Homo sapiens: one gene and its partner. The protein of the gene in region 1 interacts with the protein of each later gene in a pairwise test. Each region holds a gene or a part of one and is shown on either strand. Other genes may lie near its edges.

Evidence for each region. The genes of interacting proteins can lie anywhere in the genome.
Region 2: the proteins of PGBD1 (region 1) and ZNF496 interact in binary tests that used the Homo sapiens proteins (3 or more experiments, as listed by UniProt).

Annotation. Positions count from the first base shown.
Region 1 is NC_000006.12:28,297,733-28,304,070, forward strand, and holds the end of PGBD1 (piggyBac transposable element-derived protein 1), read left to right. Parts: intron 1-162; coding exon 163-259; intron 260-2,991; coding exon 2,992-4,552; 3' UTR 4,553-4,817; downstream 4,818-6,338.
Region 2 is NC_000001.11:247,320,727-247,328,891, reverse strand, and holds part of ZNF496 (zinc finger protein 496), read left to right. Parts: intron 1-25; coding exon 26-209; intron 210-5,661; coding exon 5,662-5,738; intron 5,739-8,165. UniProt on the Homo sapiens protein: DNA-binding transcription factor that can both act as an activator and a repressor.

The sequences.
Region 1 (6,338 bases):
GGATTGCTGAAACTGTGCACCCTTGAAACACCAATATGATTTGTTTTTTGTTTGATTTGGAACATCTATTCCCTACCCTGGAAGTTTTTTTTTTTTTTTTTTTTTTTTTTTTTCAAAATTCACATAACAGATGACATTTAAATCATTAATGTTATATTTTAGCTGAAGAAATTGTAACTAAAGATAGATTGTTTAAAGCAAAGCAAGAAACTTCTGAAGAAATGGAACAAAGTGGAGAAGCCTCAGGAAAGCCCAACAGGTGAGTGTCCATGGTCCTCAGTGAATCAAATCCTGCAGATATAAGAAATTGGAATGGAATCAGAGAAACCAATTGGTCAAAGGCCTGCTTCTCTGGAATAAGATATGACAACTGCCACTCACTTCTGTGATCATAGGAGGTCCATGCCAAGAAAGTGACCTATTCAAAATTTTCAATATGCAATAAATATACAAAACCTTCAGTTGATACTCAGTTTCCTCCAAGAAGCCTATCCTGATCCAGTCTGTCCTGCTTGATTACCCTTCCCTGGGCTCCCTTACATTTTTATGGAGCTGTGGAGAAGCTAGAAGGCAGATAATTTAACAAGAATGAGGGCTACAGATGAAGCTGCCATGACAGTTAAGAAAGAAATGTCAGAGTGGAAGAGGACAAGCAGGGTACAGGTTGAGCATTCCAAATCTGAAATGTTCCAAAATCTGAGCTGTTTGAGCACCAGCATGATGCTCAAAGGAAATGCTCATTGGAGCATTTTGGATTTTGGATCTTTGGTTAGGGATGCCCAACTGGTATAATGCAAATATTCCAAAATCTGAAAAAAATCCAAAATTCAAAAATCTTCTGACCCCAAGCATTTCAGATAAGGGAAAATTAACCTGTATTTTCAACCGCCATTGGGAGACCTGAACAAGGTATAGGTCAAAAGGAAAGTTAGCTGATGAAGTAGAAATGAATGACAGTGGTGTGTGCTTCATAAGTGCTGGTTGTGGGAATGAATGAACTTGTAACAGATACTCCTATGCAAAGCAAGAAACTTCTGAAGAAATGGAACAAGGTGGAGAAGCCTCGGGAATGCCCAACATTCCGAGGCTTCTCAGGATTGCAGAAAGAGAGGGAACAAATCACAAGCAGAGGGTTGGCTTCTGGTGAGGCCATTTGGTCCTCAGAGACTTGAGAAAAGAGAGAGTAAGCAAGGTGGGCTACTTGGCCAAAGAGCTGAGAAGGGGGTGTGAATTTTCCTTATTGACATTTGTTTAACTTAGAGAAACTGGGAGCTAAATCTCAGCTAAAGTAGAAATGTCTTAAAGCTCAAGAGGAGAAGTGAAATTTTGCATTAAGATTAGTGAAGACTGAGCCAGGCTCCACTAAAGGAAGAGATATGATGTTCAGTAACTTAGAGCAGAGTTATGCAACTGGAGAATAGGAATCTGCTATTGTGCCTGTAGGTACATTTAGTATCAGGCAACTAACAGGTAATTCATAGTGCCTATAATAAAGATATTCATATAACAAAAAGTGTGAAGGTAGGCTATTTCAGGTTAGGTGCAATAGCTTAACCATGGTATCAAAGGTCTAGCCCCCTGCCCTCCTTCTAGTCCCCCTCCCTCACCCCCACCCCACTTTCTTAGCTCACTCTTTTTTCCCATTTCTCACTCCCATTTCCTTCCCTCACAATATTGGGCTTAATGCACTGTGGTTCTTAGAGTTTAGATGTCAACAGTAGAAAGACTCAGTGTGATCAAGGAATGTCACTGAAGTTATGGATGTCAGGGAACTTTAAGATGGATGTGTTGAATACATGCAGACACTGAAGACACCCTGGATGATAAACACTTTACATAAAGAAATGTATGTAGTGTAAATTATATTAAAATATACTCTTCATGCTTCTTAAATGTCTTTGAAAACTTGACTAGTTTACCAACAGAACACTAATAAATTAAATGCACATGTCTAAAAATTAAAAACTTTGTGTAAAATAATACTTTTCAGTTGGGTGCAGTGGCTCATGCTTGTAATCCCAGCACTTTGGGAGGCCGAGGTGAGTGGATCACGAGGTCAGGAGTTTGAGACCAGCCTGGCCAACACAGTGAAACCCTGTCTCTACTAAAAATACAAAAATTAGTTGGGCATGGTGGCACGTGCCTGTAGTCCCAGCTACTCGGGAGGCTGAGGCAGGAGAATTGCTTGAACCTGGGAGGCAGAGGTGGCAGTGAGCTGAAATCATGCCACTGCACTCCAGCCTGGGTGACAGAGCTAGACTCTGTCTCAAAAAAAAAAAAAAACAAAACAAAACTTTTCATCTTTGTAACTTTAGCTTACTTCCTTGTAAACCCCATAAAAATCAGTCCAAGTGCAATGAGTTGAGTTTCATTTGTTTTTCCCCAGAGTAGTATGTCCATCAGATGAATGTAGAACTAGCAGGGGCTAAGTCCTTCCATGTTCAGAAATTCTGTGAGAGATGTCAGAAGACCTGGTAAATAATAACCTTTTTTTCTTGTTCAGATTCAGAACCAATTGACAGGGATGCAGGAGTAAAATAGATGGTTCTGGAAACCTCAGTTTCTTACTGACAGAAGTTAGACTGGATAAAAACGGCTTAAAGGCAGAGCTAAATAGGCTTGTACTGGCAGAGGAGGAGTGTAGCAGATGTCCCTCTGCATAGGTCTTCTCAATGCAACTTGGGGCACCAAGGAGCATGGGATGTCTGCATCCTGCTCCTAAAGAGGACAGAGGGAGGAGTGTACCAAGGATACTCAGTTATTTCTCCCAGGCTCAACAGTTAGTTCCATCCTGAGGAGTGAGTGAGAGGTGGAGAGTGGCTAGAAATGTTTAATCTAGCCAAAGTCCTCCCCATGGAAACTTAAGAGAAATAAGTAAGTATCCCCCCACACCCACCCCAAGCCCCAAAAGATTTAAGCTTCAGCAGATTTATCATGTGTGAGAGAATATGATTGAGGATTTTTATAACATGTTCTTTTTTTCTTTCCCAGAGAGTGTGCACCCCAGATTCCTTGTAGTACTCCTATTGCTACTGAAAGGACAGTTGCACATTTGAACACTCTGAAGGACCGTCACCCAGGTGATTTGTGGGCCCGCATGCACATCTCATCCCTGGAATATGCTGCAGGAGACATTACCCGAAAAGGGAGAAAAAAAGACAAAGCTCGAGTGAGTGAACTGCTCCAAGGCCTCTCATTCTCTGGTGACTCAGATGTGGAAAAAGATAATGAGCCTGAGATCCAGCCTGCTCAAAAGAAGTTAAAGGTATCATGTTTCCCAGAAAAGAGTTGGACCAAAAGAGACATTAAACCCAATTTTCCAAGCTGGTCAGCACTGGATTCTGGACTTTTGAATCTCAAGAGCGAAAAGTTGAACCCAGTAGAGCTTTTTGAATTATTTTTTGATGATGAAACATTCAACTTAATTGTCAATGAAACCAATAATTATGCTTCTCAGAAAAATGTCAGCTTGGAAGTCACAGTTCAGGAAATGAGGTGTGTGTTTGGTGTCTTACTTTTGAGTGGATTTATGAGGCATCCTAGAAGGGAAATGTATTGGGAAGTCTCTGACACCGATCAGAACCTGGTTAGAGATGCAATCAGAAGGGACAGATTTGAATTGATTTTCTCAAACCTGCACTTTGCAGATAATGGCCACCTAGATCAAAAAGATAAGTTTACAAAGTTGAGACCTCTCATAAAACAAATGAATAAAAATTTCCTCTTGTATGCTCCCCTGGAAGAATACTATTGCTTTGATAAGTCAATGTGTGAATGCTTTGATAGTGACCAATTCCTGAATGGAAAGCCTATTAGAATTGGCTATAAAATTTGGTGTGGTACAACCACACAGGGTTATCTGGTTTGGTTTGAACCCTATCAAGAAGAATCAACTATGAAGGTAGATGAGGATCCTGATCTTGGGTTAGGTGGAAATCTAGTGATGAACTTCGCTGATGTTCTTTTAGAGAGAGGTCAGTATCCCTATCACCTGTGTTTTGATAGCTTCTTTACAAGTGTCAAATTGTTGTCAGCCTTGAAAAAGAAGGGGGTGAGGGCAACAGGAACAATTCGTGAGAACAGGACCGAAAAATGTCCCCTTATGAATGTAGAACATATGAAAAAAATGAAGAGAGGGTATTTTGATTTCCGAATAGAAGAAAACAATGAGATAATTTTGTGTCGTTGGTATGGGGATGGCATTATCAGTCTGTGCTCCAATGCTGTGGGCATAGAACCAGTCAATGAGGTAAGCTGTTGTGATGCTGATAACGAAGAAATCCCTCAGATAAGTCAACCATCCATAGTAAAAGTGTATGATGAATGCAAGGAAGGTGTAGCTAAAATGGATCAAATTATTTCGAAATACAGGGTGAGGATAAGAAGCAAGAAATGGTACTCAATTTTGGTGAGCTACATGATTGATGTAGCCATGAACAATGCATGGCAACTACACAGAGCCTGTAACCCAGGTGCTTCTCTAGACCCCTTGGATTTTCGGAGATTTGTTGCACATTTCTACTTGGAACACAATGCTCATCTGTCAGATTAGGGTACATAAAATGGACATAGTGCAGACATTAATAAGACATAGAAAAATAATAATTATACATGCTGTTGTACCCTCCCAAAGTAAATCTGATATATGTAATGAAGTTATTAAATAATACTTTTAAAAATCAGACATTTATATAGAGTTTCAAAGACTATTGTAACAAGTAATGTTAAAAATTGTCTGTGAGAATGTTGAACTGTAGTACCTTTCTCTATGTCAAGTTTTGTGTCAGACATGGGAAATCATGTATTTGTTCAATTGACTACTTTGTGCACTTATTTATTTATTTTTTGAGACACAGTCTCGCTCTGCGGCCAAGCTGGAGTGCAGTGGCACGATCTTGGCTCACTGCAACCTCTGACACCCTAGTTCAAGCGATTCTCCTGCCTCAGCCTCCCAAGTAGCTGGGATTACAGGCACGTGCTGCCATGCCTAGCTAATTTTTGTATTTTTAGTAGAGACAGGGTTTCACCATGTTGGCCAGGATGGTCTCGATCTGACCTCGTGATCTGCCTGCCTTGGCCTCCCAAAGTGCTGGGATTACAGGCGTGAGCCACCATGCCCAGCTATTTTGTGCATTTAAAGAAGGAAATCCTACCTCTTAAAAAAAATTATCTGGAGAATGCCATTTTTAAGATGCAAGCAATGTTACAGAAACCATAGAATGGTGCTGACTCAATAGTTCAAACTAGTGACACAGCCTATGAAGTAAGAATGATCTAAACAAAACATAGGTGGTAAGAGACTAAAAACCTTAGCATTGGTGTAAAACTGGATCGGATTGTGTGTAAGTGAGAAGGGTCAGGCATGGATATTGAAGGAGAGTGCTATAAAGGAAAAACCAGAGGTGAAGCAGTGCCTTTGAATATTGAAATGATAGGTGTATCCTATGGTGACTGTGTGAGTTGGCAGCAGAAGTCAGAAGAGTAAAGAAAACCAAGGAAACAGGCAAATCAGGGTAACAAGTAACCAGGAGAGTGAAGGAAAAGATAGGCATAAAGTCAACATAAAGGCCAAGTTGAAATCACCTGAGGAGATGTCTAGGCTTAAGGCCATCAGTGATAGGTAACTGAAGGAGAAACACTTGGAAAAGTGAATGATACGGACTGTGACTCCTTAGTGTTGAAGTCTAGCATTGGTGGATTAGTCTGGAGGGTAGAGAAGACAGGCTCCACCTCATTTCTGTGAGTTGTAGCCACAACAGCTCTTTGCCTTTCTTTCATATCCTAATATTTACAGTCCCTTTCCTGGCTGGAAGGCAGGTGGTCAGGTTTGAATTCTTTCAACAGGTATGTTTCTTATGTGGATGACTGGTGAAAGTGTAAGCTGCGTGTAATGTAGTCACAGATTCACCTATTCCATGCAAGATGTTCAAAGAAAATATAAGTTCATTATTTCCTGTAATTGATCTGATATTCTTTGTGAAATACATCACCAGCGTGGGTTGGTTTCACTTTTAAATGATGAAGTGTCTGGTGTCTAAGTATCTCCCCACAAAAGGGTATTAATAGAATGCAGGTTTTAGTTAAATGATGAGTGGTGCAGATAGTAATTGCTAATATAGGCAGGAAATAGTTACAGAATAACTTCGTATTTCACTTTCATGTCTGCCCTGATGTTTAGAGCCCTCTAGCCATCCCCACTTGGAAGTTATCAAAGGCTGCACTTTATATCTCCCACATTCTAAATCTGCTTTTCTCTTCTCCAGGGTTCCATAATTATGTAAATAATATCACTGAACACCCAGGTTATCAAACAAGACACCTAAATGTTACCTGTGACC
Region 2 (8,165 bases), on another chromosome or scaffold:
TGAAAAGCTGTCTCTGGGATTGCAGCTCAAGCACTGTGAAGACCCTGTGGTGATTGATGATGGGGACAGCCCTCTGGACCAGGAGCAGGAGCAGCTGCCGGTAGAGCCCCACAGCGACCTTGCAAAGAACCAGGATGCCCAGCCCATAACCCTGGCACAGTGCCTGGGGCTCCCAAGCAGACCACCAAGCCAGCTCAGCGGGGACCCAGGTATGCAGCCCAGGGGAGTGTAGCAGGGGTGATCTGGGGAAGTGCACACCCCATACTGTGCACTGGGTGTGGTTTTTGTTAAGCTGATGGCTTTTACATCAGCAGTGTTCTCGTGTCCCCGAGGTGCTGTGAGCTGTTGTCAGGGTCTGAGTCCCTTCCTAGAGCAATTAAATGAGAACCTCATCAGGATGTTTGTCCTCTTCATGGTTCTAGAGCCTCTCAGAGCTAACGCTTCTGTAGGTGGGTGTCACTGAGGTGGTGCCCTCTCATCTCTTCGAGGGTGCATCTCTGCAGGATTTGTCAGTTTGATGACAGCTGGGGACTGCCAGTGTACAGCTGGGGCCTGCTGCATGACTGGAGCATGGCCATTTCTTGTCTCTTGGAACCTCTGTTTCCTTGGCTAAACAACTCCTGTTTACAGGAGTATTGTGATGCTGCGAAGAGATGTAGAAATACTTAGGAGGACACAGGGTGGTGTCTAGTGTGTGGGGCCAGAACATCAGCTACACATAGTTTGAGTATGTATATGAAGTACATGGTAGCTACAGGAAAGTAGTTTTTTCATCAGATAAACTTAGATTTGAATCTTCTGGTTATGACCTGAGGCATGTTTCTAAACTCTGAAAGCCTCAGTTTCTTCCTCTGTCCAGCAGAGATAGTAATTACCTTTTTTGGGGTTTTTGGACAATTAAATGAGATACAACCTACAAAAGGTTGAACACAAGGCCTGAGGTGCCCAAAACTTTAAGTACATATCATGGGAAACCAGCGCCCTTGGGTTGAAGGAAGTCTGGCCCGTGGGTTCCTCTGGGTGGACTTGCCACGGTGCTTTATATGTACAGTGGAAAGAGAGTGTCTGGGGGGCCAGGGGGGCTTTCTTATGACTCTGGGTGGACTTGCCATAGTGCTCTATAGGTACAATGGAAAGAGAGTGTCTGGGGGGCCAGGGGAGACTTTCTTATGACTTGCAGAAGTTGTGTTTGGCATTATGATAAGCTTTTCAGTAATAAAACCAAAATGCCTATTAAATTTCTGTGTGTGGAAAAACTATATTGACTTCTGTACAAATCACATAAACTCTTCAGCCTTTTCTTGCTTATAAATCAAGTTTGGTGTGTTGTTGGCTGCCATAACAAAGTACCACAGACTGGATGCCTTATGTAACAGAAATGTATTCTCTCACAGTTCAGGAGGCTGGAAGTCTGAAGTCAATGTATCAGCAGCCTTGGGTTCTTCTGAAGCCTCTCTCCTTGGCTTGTAGACATGCCTAATGTTAACACTAAGAGAAGTTTGCAGATAGACATTTAGAAGGAGCTAGGGGTTGGGCGCGGTGGCTCACGCCTGTAATCCCAGCACTTTGGGAGGCCAAGGCGGGCGGATCACCTGAGGTCAGGAGTTCGAGACCAGCCTGGCCAAGATGGTGAAACCCCATCGCTACTAAAAATACAAAATTAGTTGTGTGTGGTGGTGGGTGCCTATAATTCCAGCTTTTCGGGAGGCTGAGGCAGGAGAATCACTTGAACCTGGGAGGCGGAGATTGCAGTGAGCTGAGATCACGCCATTGCATTCCAGCCTGGGTAAAAACAGTAAAACTCCATCTCAAAACAAAACAAAAAAAAAGGAGCTAGGAGGGGAAGTCTCTTATGCCACTGGCTCTCTTTGGGACCCGTAAAAACCCATGAATATCCGGCCCTGAAAGCTGACAACAAGCTTTGTGCCAGGACTCTTGATGACGGGCGGTTTTCTTTCAGGGAAAGGAAGAGGAAGATGTTTACACTAAGAGAAGTTTGCAGAGCAGGTGTAACAGACACCTTCTCTCTCTGGGTCTCTTTATGTGGTCTTTCCTTTGTGTGTGTCTGTGTCTTAATCTCCTCTTCTTATAAGTACACCAGTCCTATTGGATTAGGGCCCACCCATATGACCTGATTTTATCTTAATGACCTCTTTAAAGACCCTATCTCCAAATACTCAGTCGCATTCTGAGGTACCTAAGGGTTAGGGCTTCAACATAGGAATTTGAGAGGGCCATAACTTAGCCTGTAACAACAGGTATAAGGGAAGCAGCCAGTCGCCCACATAATGCACGTGCAAGTAGCTTGGGTTATGCAGGAAGTGGGGGGCTGTGAGAGGCCTTGTAGTGGGGTCTGGGAAGGCATGCAGGTGGAGAGGAAGAAGTTTCAGGAACTACAGTAGCCTGTGCAGTTGCTTCTTGATAAAGTTCTGAGATAAGCCAGCAACCACAGATGGGCTTTAGGAAAACAGGGCCAGCTCTCCCATTTCCATGAGCAATAATCAATAGGCAAAGTAGGTATGATGAGAGTTAGCAATCAGGAAAACCTTAACTATTGGGACAGTTCATCATTGGAATGCACTACCTATCAGAGCTGTATAGTTCCTCATCTTGAAGATCTTCCCCAAAAGCTAGATTTTGTGTAGGGTCTGCAACTCTCCGAAGTGATTCTTGAAAGGGTCCATGTATTCATTTATCGGGGCCAAAAGTAGGGTGGGACTACATATTCATATATATATATATATATGTGTGTATATATATATATGTATGTATATATATGTGTGTGTATATATATGTGTGTGTATATATGTGTGTGTGTGTGTATATATGTGTGTGTGTGTGTATATATATATATGCGTGTGTATATATATATATACATATGTCTCAGCCTCCCAAAGTGTTGGGATTACAGGCGTGAGCCACTGTGCCCGGCCAACATGATTTTAAACTTGGAGAAGGGAGGGCTAGGGATGGGAAGGAGTTAGCCAGGTTACCCAGTTAGGGGGCATCTCCATTCATATATATATGAATATCTGGGATAGCTACATATCCCAGAAGGTGGCAGGTGTGAGGAAGCAGAACTAAAACACCACCTCCTAGCCAGGCATGGTGGCTCATGCCTATAGTTCCAGCTACTCAGGGGGCTGAAGCAGGAGGATTGCTTGAGGCCAGGAGTTTGAGACCAGCCTGGGCAACATAGCGAGAACCCACCTCTAAAAAATAAAACACCCCCTCTGGGAGACATCGGTCAAAGAGTACAAAGTTTCCGTTAGGTAAGATGAATAAATTCTGGAGATCTATGGTACAGCATGGTGAGGTTGATGAAAAATAATGCATCTTATACTTGAAAATTGCTAAGAAAGTAAATAAGAAATGTTCTCGTCACAAAAATATATGAGGTATAGATTTGTTAATTAGCTTAATTTAATCATTTCACAATGTATAGTTATCACATTGTACAGTTTTCGTATACAAAATACATACAATTTTTGTCAATTATAGCTTAATAAAACTGGGAGGTAAAAGTAAGTTAAATAAAGATGAAGATAGAAACTTAAAATGGAACATACACACAGAAAAATACCACCTCCTCAAATCTACGCCCATCCAGCCTGAGCTTCCCCTTCAGACACAGTGAAGAGGCTGCCTTCCACTGAGACCCCTAGAATGGCACTGCCATCTGTGTGGGCTCCTGGCCCCGTCCTTTGTTCCACATAGCCACTCCTGCAGCTGCTGTTTCCTGCAGGCTTTGTATTCCAGGTCTGAAAGGCCAGGGACACTGGCCTCTGGGGTTTGCTTTGATAATGACTTAACATGTGACCTGGGGTTAACCAGTAGACTATAGCACAGCTCTCCAAGTCTTAATCTGAGAAAGGAGTACCTTTTGAAACAGAGCTCATTTTTACATGGCTGCACTGTTGGCAGGGGATGTGGCTCATGGCAGAAGCCTGAACAAAGGGTAGTTTCCAATTCCAGGAGAGAAGAGTGGCAGAGTCCCTGGTAGCCCAAAATAAGGCTGGTGAGATGGTCCCAAAGCCACACTTTACATTTTGTATGAGGGTCTTTAGGACACTGTGTCAAATGCTCTTTCAGGAGTACCTACAGTGGTAACAGTTTTTCTTTTTTGTTTAATTTCTGTCTTCAAATTGACAAAAAAAAATTGTATGTATTTACAGTGTACAGTGTAATGTTTTGATATCTATACACATTGTGAAATGATTAAACCAAGCTACTTAGCTGGGCATGGTGGCACACCTGTAGTCCCAGCTACTCAGGAGGCTGAGGTGGGAGGATCCCTTGAGCTCAGGAGTTCTGTTCCAGCCTAGGCAACCTAGTGAGACCAGTCTCTTAAAAAAAAAAAAAGTCAAGCTAATTAATATAATGCATTACCTCATATACCTATCCTTTTTCTGTGTGTGGTGAAAATACTTCAGATCTACCCTCTTAGCAATTTTCAAGTACACAGTACGTTGTTACTGCCTATAGTCACCATGTTGTGCAATAGGACTCCTGAGTTTACTCCTCTCATGTCACTGAAATTTTGTACACTTTGACCAATGTCTCCCCAGTCCCCTCATTCCCTAGCCTCTGGTAACCAGCATTCTGATCTCTGCTTCTATGAGTTCAACTTTTTTAGAGTCCACATTTAAGTGAGAACATGCAGTATTTCTTTTTGTGTCTGGCTTATTGCTCGTAGCATGTCTTTCAGGTTCATTCATGTCGTCAAAAATGACAGGATTTTCCTTCTTTTTTTATGGAGTTCCACAGTAATTCTGATTGCCAACAGCCCTTACTTTTTTTTTTTTTTTTTTTCATTTGAGACAGAGCCATGTTCTGTCACCCAGGCTGGAGTGCAGTGGTGCAGCTGTGGCTCACTGCAGCCTCCATCTCTCAGGCTCAAGCAATCCTTCTGTTTCAGCTTCCCAGTTTTTTTATTTTTAATAGAGATGCGGTCTCCCTATGTTGCCCAGACTGGTCTTGAACTCCTGAGCTTAAGCAATCCTCCCACTTTGGCTTCCCAAAGAGCTAGGATTACAGGCATGAGCCACCACATCCAGACCCTAAGAGTCCTTATAGATTCCTCAACTCTACGGCTTTTTCTTTTTCTTCTTCTTTTTTTTTTTCTTTTTCTTTTTAAGAAACAAATACTCTGTGTTGTCCCTGCTGGTCTGGAACTCCTGGGCTCAAGTGATTCTCCCACCTCAGTCCCCAAAATAAGAATAGCTGAGATTACAGGCATGTACCACCACACACGGCTGAACTCCATAGAGTTTTAACCTTTATTTTCCCATAGTTTGGATAACAATGCTGAGGTCCGGGGACCTACCCGAGGTGAAAGAGTTCATTTAATTGACCGTGCTATCATGAACCCAGGCACACTCTGTTACAGCCCCCCTTGTTATATCTGGAAACAAAGTCGCAGCAATCTTTGTGGTTTACAGAGTACTTTTCATGTGCGTCATTTTGTAATCCTCATTTTACAGTTAAGAACAGAGACTGGGGTTTTATGAAAAGCACCATGAAACAGTTCCCTGTTGGTGCCTCTCTTGTGATTTTCTTTGCTACCAAAATGGAAATGAAGAGCCGCAGGAAGCTCAGAAGGTATCAGCACCAGGCCTGGCCCTGGCCCACTTTAGGACACCATTTTCTGATCTCTTTCAGTTCTGCAAGATGCTTTCCTTCTTCAGGAAGAGAATGTGCGGGACACACAGCAGGTGACCACCCTCCAGCTACCCCCGGTGAGTGGTTTCTACAGGAGTCCTTGAAAATCCCCTGTTTGCCTCTGTAGGCTACAGGGCAGCTTTCTTAGGACCCCAGCCAGCTTTCTGACTGCCACACAGGATGTTCAGTCCCAGCCCAGAAAAGCTAAAATAGGCAGAGCGTGAGCTTAAGAGACGCCCCATTTCTCCTCCTTCCCTGTGGTCCCAGCCGCCCACTGGGTCTACTGTCATCAGGCCACCTTCAGGAAGCTTTGTGCAGACGATAGCAGGAAACAAAGGCCCATGAGTCCCCATTGATGGGCCTCTCAGCATGTCTAAGTTCCCCTCTTGTGAAAAAGGAGATCTCTCTGCTCTTTTATTTTACAGAGAATTTTTCAATTTAATAATCATCGCAGCAATGGTTATATTTTAGAAATGTTAGGAAGTGGAGGGAAGAAAGCACAGATAATTTCAGTCCTGTCACAGATCTACGTGGTGAGTCATTCCAGAATTTCCTCGAATGTTCTCGTTCGTGTTTTTGTGTAAGACTTGCTTACTCGGGTGCTCTGAGGAGTCAGAGTCAGGGCTGGGGGCTGGTCCAGCAGGTGATCTTACTCGCCTCTCTCTAGCCCAGTTGCTGTCTTTGGCCATGTTTTCTGGCCATATCTCCTTCACTTTCCCTCCTAACACTTTCCACTGGCTGGCACAAGATTTAGTTATGACAGCATCATCCCCTCCCATGGGAACAGGATGTGTGGCTCCTGCTTTTGTTTAGTTGCTCCTTACCCAACAGAAAACTGTGAAAAACAGTAGACACTCTTATTACCATGTCTCAGCAGAATGTCGGAAGCTGAGCAGTTTGCTTTCTGCACAGTTCATTTGACATGACTTTATTTTATTTTTATTTTTAGAGACAGGGTCTTGCCTTGTCACCCAGGCTTCAATGCAGTGGCACAGTCGTAGTTCACTGCAGCCTCAAACTCCTGAGCTCAAGCCATCCTCCCACCTCGGTCTCCTGAGCAGCTGGGACTACAGGTGCATGCCACTACACCCAGCTAAGTTTTGTATTTCCTTGTAGAGACAGGGTCTCGCCATGTTGCCCAGGCTGGTCTCAAACTCCTGACCTCAAGTGATCCTCCTGTCTCAGCCTCCCAAAGTGCTGGGATTACAGGCATGAGCCACTGTGCCCAGCCAACATGACTTTAAACTTGGAGAAGGGAGGGCTAGGGATGGGAAGGAGTTAGCCAGGTTACCCAGTTAGGGGGCATCTCCATAACTTGCTTTTGCCCCACCAGAAATGTGGCACACGCCTGTTTACCCTGATGCTCAACACATACATGTCAGCATCTGCTGTGTACTGTGACCATTTCCAAACACAAAGGAGGTAAAACCAGTATTTCTTATTAAAATTTGGACATTTAACCAGTATAACACATAAGGGGATGCTGTTAATCCAGTACCTAATGAGGTTTGGTCTTCATCTTTCAATTCCTGCAGTCCCTAGTAAATGCCATAGCGAGCACAGTACAGAGATTTTGATAAGTCAGTACTGTTGTATTACTCTGATAGTTTCTTCCCAGTGATAGTTTCTTCCCAGTGCACTAAAAGTCACCATCATGAAGATGTTGTTTATAAGTGTTTTTTAATTTCTGTTTTTAATTGTGGTAATATACACATAGCGTAAAATTTTCCATCTTAACTGTCTTTAAGTGTGCGGTTCAGTGGTGTTAAGTATATTTACATTGTTGTACACCCAATCTGTAGAACTTTTTCATCTTCCCAAACTGAAATTCTCTATACGTTAAATAATAACTCCTCATTTACCCTTTCCCTTAGCCCCTGGCAACCTCCATGCTACTTTTAGTCCCTATTAATTTGACTATAAATACCTCATATAATTGGAATTATGCACTATTTGCCTTTTTGTGACTGGCTTATTTCATTCAGCATAATGTCCTCAAGGTTCATCTATGTTGCAGTATGTGTCGGAATTCCCTTCCGTGTTTTTTTTTCCCCCGAGATGGAGTCTTGCTCTGTCGCCCAGGCTGAAGTGTAGTGGCTCGATCTCGGCTCATCGCAACCTCCGCATCCCGGGTTCAAGCAATTCTCCTGCCTCAGCCTCCCGAGTAGCTGGGATTACAGGCACCCGCAACCACGCTTGGCTAATTTTTGTATTCTTAGTAGAGACGGGGTTTCACCATGTTAGTCAGGCTCTTGAACTCGAACTCTTGACCTCGTGATCCACCTGCCTCGGCCTCCCAAAGTGCTGGGATTACAGGCGTGAGCCACCATGCCTGGCCATGAATTCCCTTCCTTTTTAAGGTTGAATAATACTCCCATGTGTGTATATATCACCTTGTTTATCCATTCATCTGTCGATGGACATTTACATTGCTTCCACATTTTGGCTTTTGTGAATAATGCTGCTATGAACATGGTACACGTGAAGTTTTGTTTTTCTTTTTA